Homo sapiens: one gene and its partner. The protein of the gene in region 2 interacts with the protein of the main gene of each other region in a pairwise test. Each region holds a gene or a part of one and is shown on either strand. Other genes may lie near its edges.

What was found.
Region 1: the proteins of NFYC (region 2) and SAE1 interact in binary tests that used the Homo sapiens proteins (3 or more experiments, as listed by UniProt).

Annotation. Positions count from the first base shown.
Region 1 is NC_000019.10:47,137,335-47,140,834, reverse strand, and holds part of SAE1 (SUMO-activating enzyme subunit 1), read right to left. Parts: intron 1-3,500. UniProt on the Homo sapiens protein: The heterodimer acts as an E1 ligase for SUMO1, SUMO2, SUMO3, and probably SUMO4. It mediates ATP-dependent activation of SUMO proteins followed by formation of a thioester bond between a SUMO protein and a conserved active site cysteine residue on UBA2/SAE2.
Region 2 is NC_000001.11:40,742,736-40,747,852, reverse strand, and holds part of NFYC (nuclear transcription factor Y subunit gamma), read right to left. Parts: intron 320-5,117; coding exon 248-319; intron 1-247. UniProt on the Homo sapiens protein: Component of the sequence-specific heterotrimeric transcription factor (NF-Y) which specifically recognizes a 5'-CCAAT-3' box motif found in the promoters of its target genes.

The DNA of each region.
Region 1 (3,500 bases), on a different chromosome or scaffold from region 2:
CCATCAACACCAAATACCATGTTTACGTTTTGTTTTATTGAAACAGGGTCTCATTCTGTGAACCCAGATTGAAGGGCAGTGGCAAGATCAGGGCTCGCTGCAGCCTCAACCTCCCAGGTTCAAGTGATCCCGCCACCTCGGCCTATTGAGTCCTGGGACTATAGGTGCACACCACTGCACCTGGCTGATTTATGGGTTTTTTTTTTTTTTTGTAGACACAGGGTCTCACTATGTTGCCCAGGCTCATCTCCAGCTCCTGGGCTCAAGCAATCTTCCTGCCTCTGCCTCCCTCAAAGTGCTGGGTTTACAAATCCCATCACTTTGGGAGGCCAAGGTGGGTAGATCACCTGAAGTCAGGAGTTCGAGACCAGCCTGGCCAACATGGTGAAACCCCATCTCTACTAAAATTACAAAAATTAGCCGGGCGTGGGCTGGGCACGGTGGCTCACACCTGTAATCCCAGCACTTTGGGAGGCCGAGACAGGCAGATCACGAGGTCAGAAGACCGAGACCATCCTGGCTAACAAGGTGAAACCCTATCTCTACTAAAAATATAAAAAATTAGCTGGGCATGGTGGCGGGCGCCTGTAGTCCCAGCTACTCGGGAGGCTAAGGCAAGAGAATGGCGTGAACCCGGGAGGTGGAGTTTGCAGTGAGCCGAGATGGCGCCACTGCATTCCATCCTGGGCAACAGAACAAGGGTCTGTTTCAAAAAGAAAAAAAAAAAAAATTAGCCGGGAGTGGTGGCAGGCGCCTGTAATCTCAGCTACTCGGGAAGCTGAGGCAGGAGAATCGCTTGAACCCGGGAGGCGGAGGTTGCAGTGAGCCGAGACCGCACCATTGCACTTCAGCCTGGACGAAAGAGCGAGACTCCGTCTCAAAAAAAAAAAAAAAAAAAGAAATACCCAAGTGGGCACAAAAATGATACACATTCAGCAGGGCACGGTGCCTCACGCCTATAATCCCAACACTTTGGGAGGCCAAGGCGGGCAGATCACGAGGTCAGGAGATTGAGATCATCCTGGCTAACATGGTAAAACCCCGTTTCTACTAAAAATACAAAAAAAAAAAAAAAAAAATTGGCCGGGAGTGGTGGCGGGTGCCTGTAGTCCCAGCTACTCGGGAGGCTGAGACAGGAGAATGGTGTGAACCCGGAAGGTGTAGCTTGCAGTGAGCCGAGATCGCGCCACTGCACTCCAGCCTGGGTGACAAGAGTGAGACTCTGTCTCAAAAAAAAAAAAAAAAAAAGATACACATTCACAGCAGCATTGTCCATCTACTTCCCTCAAGTTCCACAAACACCACTCTAGTCTGAGCCACCATCGTTTCTCTCCGACAAAACTACAGCAGGCTGGACGCAGTGGGTCACACCTGTAATCCCAGCACTTTAGGAGGGCAAGGCATGAGGATCACTTGAGCCCATGAGTTCGAAACCAGCCTGGGCAACAAAGTAAGACTCCATCTGTACAAAACAAAAAAAAATTAGCTGGGTGTGCCAGGCGCGGCGACTCACGCCTGTAATCCCAGCACTTTGGGAGGCCAAGGTGGGAGGACCATGAGTTCAGGAGATGGAGACCATCGTGGCTAACACGGTGAAACCCCGTCTCTACTAAAAATACACAAAATTAGCCGAGGCGGTCGGATCACTTGAGGTCAGGAGTTCGAGACCAGCCTGGCCAATATGGTGAAACTCCATCTCTACTCAAAATACAAAAATTAGCCAGGCGTGGTGGCACGTGCCTGTAGTCCCAGCTACTCGGGAGGCTGATCCTAGAGAACATCATCCTTGCTCCCATCCTTGCTCCCACCTTAGGACCTTGGCATTAGTGCTTCCCATTGCTTCTTCCCTCAACTTCTTAAGGGACACATTCTTTAGGTCTCAGCTCAATTGTCACCTCCTTAGAGAAGTCCATACTGGCCACCTAATTTAAAATAGGTCCACATCCTCTTCTATCTCGAATTATGCTACTTGTTTTTGTTTTGATTAAGATGGGGTCTGTGTTGCCCACTGTTTTGATTGAAATGGGGCCTCACTAAGTTGCCCAAGCTAGTCTCAATTGCCTGGCTCAAGTGATCCTCCAACCTCAGCCTCCCCAGTAGCTGGGATCACAGCCACACACCACTGTGCTAAGCTACACTACTTGTTTATATGTTTACTGCCCCCTCCTCCATTAGAATGTAAACTCCAGAAACCACTGTATCACTAGAACCAGTAACTTCCTTGGCATTTAGGACATACTGTTACTCAAATGGCTGTGAATTAATAGACACACCAAAACAAACCTGTGTCCATCAGCAGAATTATAGAAATCTGGTACATAATAAAATAATAATGGCCAACATTTATCTAACACTTACTATGTGCCAAGCACTGTTCTACTAAGCTCTTTGTATGTATTATGTCATTTAATTCCCATGACAATCTAATGGGCTGGCACTTTGTTACCCCTCTTTTGCAGCTGAGAAAACAGGCACAAAGAAGGTAACTTCTGGCCAGGCGCAGTGGCTCATGCCTGTAATCCCAGCACTTAAGGAGGCTGAGGCGGGTAGATCACCTGAGGTCAGGAGTTCAAGACCACCCTGGCCAACATGGCGAAACCTGGTCTCTACTAAAAATACAAACATTAGCTGGGCGCGGTAGCAGGCGCCTGTAATCCCAGCTACTTAGGAGGCTGAGGCAGGAGAATTGCCTGAACCCGGGAGGCAGAGGTTGCAGTGAGTCTAGATCACGCCATTGCACTCCAGCCTGGGCAACAAGAGAGAAATTCCGTCTCAAAAAAATAAAAAAATAAAATACACACACATAGGCCGGGTGTAGTGGCTCACGCCTGTAATCCCAGCACTTTGGGAGGCCGAGGTGGGCAGATCACTTGAAGTGAGGAGTTTGAGACCAGCCTGGCCAACATGGTAAAACCCCGTCTCTACTAAAAATATAAAAATCAGCCAGGTGTGGTGGCACGCGCCTGTAATCCGAGCTACTCCAGAGGCTAAGGCAGGAGAATCGCTTGAACTCAGGAGGCGGAGGTTGCAGTGAGCCAAGATTGTGCCACTGCACTCCAGCCTGGGCGACAGAGTGAGAGTCCATCACAAAAAAAAAAAAAAAACAACACACACACACACACACACACACAATCAGCTGAGTGTTACGGCATACGCCATGCACACACAAAATTAGCTGAGTGATATGGCATACGCCTGTGGTCCCAGCTACTTGGGGGCTGAGGCGGGAGAATCCCTTGAACCCGGGAGGTGGAGGTTGCAGTGAGCTGAAGATCACGTCACTGCGTCACTGCACTCCAGCCTGGGTAACAGAGCGAGAAAAAAAAATTTTAGTTGTAATTGTCAACTATCAATAAAAACTCCAGAAACTTGGCCTCAATTTAAGCAACCAAATCTGCTCTAGGAAGCTGCTTCTTTACTTTATTTTATTTTATTTATTTATTTTTGAGACAGAGTTTCGCTCTTGTCACCCAGGCTGGAGTGCGATAGTGTGACCTTGG
Region 2 (5,117 bases):
AAAAAAAAAAACCCAACATCAACTATTTTTTCAACATCTAAAAAATTTTCAGGATGATCCATATAGTAACCAAAACTGCTCAATTTTGGCTCACTTAACAATTTTGCACAGGAACCAAATAACAAAGCAACAGACAGTAATTTTTGTGTGTTCTTGTTTAATTAAACTTTGAGCTCTAGAGAAATGAGCAATAACCTACCCATCACTTAGCTTCAATAAGAAATAATAAAAATGAATGTGAATTCACCTTCACATCTTCATCCAGTTTCATAATCTTCTTAATACGAGCCAGTGGGAGTTCCTGCACTCGGAAGTCTTTCTGAAATGAACAACAAGAGATGCATAAATGGTGGGGACAATCAACAGTGTGGCAAAGCATGACAGGCAGTAGGAAACACTCTGGCTTGGTCCCTCTCTTCAGGAAGCGTATGTCGGGAGAGAAGGTACAGATGAAATGAAGAAAATACAAGCTCCAGAGCAAAATTCTTCTTTACTTAACATATGCAGGTCTTCAAAGAATTAATGGGCTTTAGAAAAAGCTTAGGATGGCCTCTAACAGTGCTCTCATGAAACACAGCCCCAAGCAATATCTGTTTTTTTTTTTTTTTCGTCAGCACAACATAGAGGGACATTATGAGCGCCTTCTTTTTTTTTCCAAGTAAGTTTACCAGTCTGCAATATGCAGATTAAAATGAGATTTCTGTCTCAGGGGTATTCCTCTAAACTGCCAGTTCTTTCTTCCATTCAGTGACCAAACTAACAGCAACGCCGGGGCACTTGACCACAGTGATCCACAGTTCTTTACAACTGATAGTGGCCATTTCTGACATTTGCACTAACCTGACAACAGAAACTGGGGAGGAGAGCTCCTTTCTCATCACAGTAGCAATGGCCTTGTCTCCAAAATTTGTTTCAAGTGGGGGTAGAGGAGTATAGAAAAAGGATGAGGGTGAATTTGTCAGCTGCCTTTTAGGAACAGCTGTGTTATTTTTTCTTAACAAGCCTGGAGTGGGGGAGGACCATATAACTTCACTGTGGATATAGTTTAGGAAAGGGCTTTTTTGATCAGCACTACTCAATAATTTGAGACTTAAGCCCTTTTTTGTTTTATTTTGAAACTACTGGTATTTAAACACATGCCCAATGATGGATGCAATTCTAGGAAAAAAATCAATTTTGAGTTTCAGAGCTGCAATGAAGAGGAAGGTGCAAAGGCAGATATTAGCTAAAATCAGCAAAATCTCTACTGGGACTAGGTGTCAAATGATTGATTCTATAAGTGGTCTGAAATGTGACTCACTAAACCTAATATGCTCACCTGGGAATTTGCATCATCACATTATGGAAGGAGCATATATTATTTCAGATTTGATGTAATTAACAAGCATAAGTGAACTTTCTTTTGCAAGACCAACAGAAAATCTCAAATATATGTCAAAAAAAGGTATTTTGGAAAAACATCAACAGTCTTCCCAGAACCTATTTTATGATTATAGAAAGAAGAGAATCTATTAGGATAAAATGTACACCAAGACATCTAATTTTTCCATGCAAACCCAACAAGCTGCTTGGCTACCACTCTGCTCTACAAACTTCAAACACCAATTTTTCATCTTTTCCTTTTCCAAATTAGGTATCAACATTTTCCATGAACCCTCTACTAAAACTAACCCTGGAGTAACAGAGACTTAGAAGTTCAGTTTATTAAAATTTCAACAAAAGGAAACAGTAGCGCAGGTTCATTCTATTCTTGTTTTTCCCCTTGCTCTTTCATTTACTGATTCAAGCAACTCAACTAATAGTAAATGTATGATACCTACTACTATGCAAAAAATACACATGTAGGCCAGGCATGGTGGCTCATGCCTGTAATCCCAGCACTCTGGAAGGCTGAGATGGGAGAATCGCTTGAGGCCAGGAGTTTGAGACCAGTCTGGTCAACATAGTGAGACCCCATCACTATTTAAAAAAGAAAGAAAAAAAATACACATCTACTCCTACCTTTGAAGAGCTTGTGGTTTGTCAGAGATAGTCACATAAAAACATTATAATCCCCTACCCAATACTGGAGGGGAGGGATCCCCTGCGGGGACACAAAGAAGGACATATTGCTAGGGACAGCTAGCAATGTGGGGCTGGAGGGAGAGTGAGGGATTGGGAAATGTTCCACAAAGGGGATGACATCTGAATTGTGTCTAAGGGATGCTGGGAATTTGCCTGTTGAAAAAGTATGAGAATGTTATTCAGACAGAACAACAAAGACAGAGAGAGAGACAAAAAATCACAGCCTATTTAAGTTTTAGATCTACTACCTGAGTATAGAGGGGAAAAGCAGGAAAGAGGATACTGGGTTGGGGCCAGATCCTAAAGAGTTTTTTTAAAAGTTTAATCCCAGAAATCAACCACTGGTCTTCCTTCTTGTGTGGCATATCACAGAAGATGATGACACTACATAGAAATGCCAAAGAGAATGCTAGGGATGATCATTCCTTTGGAAAACCTCCCAGGCTAATACATACAGCACAAGATGATCATACATTTAGCTCTCTTGCAAGTGTGCTCTTGTTTGGCTTGGTTTTAAATATAATTTGTACAAGAACGTTCCATGATTACTTAACTAAAGCCCAAAGTTGATAAAAAAGACCTCTTTCCCCAAATTGAAAGAGTAAACTATTACTCCTTCAATTTCTCTTCTTTAATCAAAAGCAACAAAAGTCAAGGATCAAGAGATCATTCCCGCCTTGCAGAGATGTAAAATGAGGCAGAAATTTATAATAAGCTCTGCTTTAATCCCCTTCCCAAAGCTTTTCTTTGTGACAAACTATTTTTTCATGTTCCTGAAACCTTGAGATCTCAAGAAGCAGTGTGTAAAAGTGGATCTTGAGGGGTGTGTATGGTTCATCCCTGTTGACAATCACCCAGTTTTCTATAATCCTATCCTAGCCTTCTAGTTACATGTAAGGATTTACCATAAGCTTGTTGGAAAAGGGAGGCCCTCTACAATCAGTAGATTGAGGCCCACGAAACTTGGATTCATGCTCCCCACTTCACTAGCTACCATGTAACTGAAGTGAGTAACATTTAACTCCTTAACTCCTTCTCCTGATACTGATTCAACTGGAAGAACAGCTGACACACACTGCTCCCCCCTACTTTTGGGAGTTCTATCAGTAAGGCAGAAGAGCAGATTATCTCTCAGAACATTCTCATGCTCCTGACCACTACCAAAGAACTACGTTAAAAATGCTTCCATCTGAAACTGCTGCATTTCAAGACAAATTCAAATCTGAATTCACTCAATGAGAGTTTGGAGACAAAGAAAAGTCAACAGATCTTGGGCTGCACTGAAGAACATCCAGAGTTTCAAATAATAAAGAGAAACCTTTTCCAGGCCTACCCAGTCAGGCACTCTGGCAAGTCAAGATTCTCAACCCTTTGAAATCAATGATTCTCAATCTTGGGGCTGCAGGTTAGAATCACCTGAAAAGCTTTTGAAAAACAAGATGCCTGAGCTCTCTCCTGGAGACCAACTGAATCAGGAACTCTAGGACAGTGGTCCCCAACCTCAGGAACCAGTTTTGTGCAAGACAATTTTTCCAGAGATGGGCAGGGTGGGCATTAGATTCTCATAAGGAGTGTGCTACCTAGATCCCTCACATGCGCAGTTCATGATAGGGTTCACATTCCTTTGAGAATCTAATGCCACTGCTGATCTGACAGGAGGTGGAGCTCAGGCAGTAATGCTTGCTTACTGGCTGCTCACCTCCTGCTGTGCAGCCCAGTTCCTAGGTTCCTAACAGGCCATGGACCCATACCGGTCTGTGGCCCAGGGGTTGGGGACCCCTGCTCTAGTGGGTAGAGTACTGGCATCATGTTTTTTGAAAACTCCCCTTGTGACTATGATCCAAGTGAGAGTTAAGGACTACTGTTTTACGGCCCTGCTACTCAAAGTAAGGTCCTTGGACCAGCAATGGTATCACCTGGGAACTCAAAAGAAACACAGAATCCCAGGTTCCGTTCCTAACCTACTAAATCAGCATCAATATTTTAAGAAGATCCTCCCTCACGTGGTTCATACAGACAATAAAGTTTGAGAAGCACTGCTCTACAGAAAGGGCTCACACAGCACAGGACCTGTTTTGTAACAGTCCACCAACCTTCATCACCAAGTTCTTGTTTAAACAGTTATCTGATTTGATTGTAATGTTAGAAATGTCATCACCCAATCAGGAGGCACTGAGGAATGAAAAGATGAAACTGCCAATTAAAAGAAAGTGACCTAGGCACTCAATTACAGTTAAGTGAAGGCTGAATGGGATGTAAAGAGTAAGTAGAGAATTAGATTTTTCTTTTCGAAATTCAGCATTGTTGCCCACCTGCCCCCAACTCACCTCCATAAAGACAAAGTTAGCTTTCTCTTTCCTATTTTCAAAGAGGCCCACTGGGGCAAAACTCAACACGAAGAAGTCTGTTATTTGCTGTTCCCAGAGCTCTGCTGTGCGGGAATATAGGGTTTTACACAATCACTCTGGTGCACAATCATCTTGATATGGTTTTTAACTAATTTCAATCCCAGCTGAACACCACCTGGATTTATAGACAACTACAGAGCTTTTAAGAATCATGAGAACAAGCTAAAATGAAAGATAAATTGCTTTTACAGGACGCAGACCAAAAGGACTTGAGGCCAGTGTTTCCAACACATCATGAAATATATCATCTAGCAAACTTCAATTACTTCTTTTTGAAACAAATTGTGTCCCAGTCTGAGATCACATTTTATGAATATTCTCGTAAGTTTTACTTATGATTGGCTAGTTTAAACATAAGGAATTTTTTTCTTTTTAATCTGTTAGATATTGTGAGGTGTCAACCTAAGAGGCTCTGACACATCTGAGGAAGTCTGGTTTTAAGTACTGTTGAGTTCTGGAAAGGGACAGATTAAATGCTAAAATGTTTGGTCATGTTACACAGGCAGCAGCGCAGTCAGAGAAGCAGATGCCATCACGTGTTGCACTCCTGAGAAGAGGGGAAAATAAGAGTCACACAAGGGAAAAAAATTACCCTGACTTTACTGGATTGCATTCTTACTCAAATATGGAATTGATGTTGCTTTG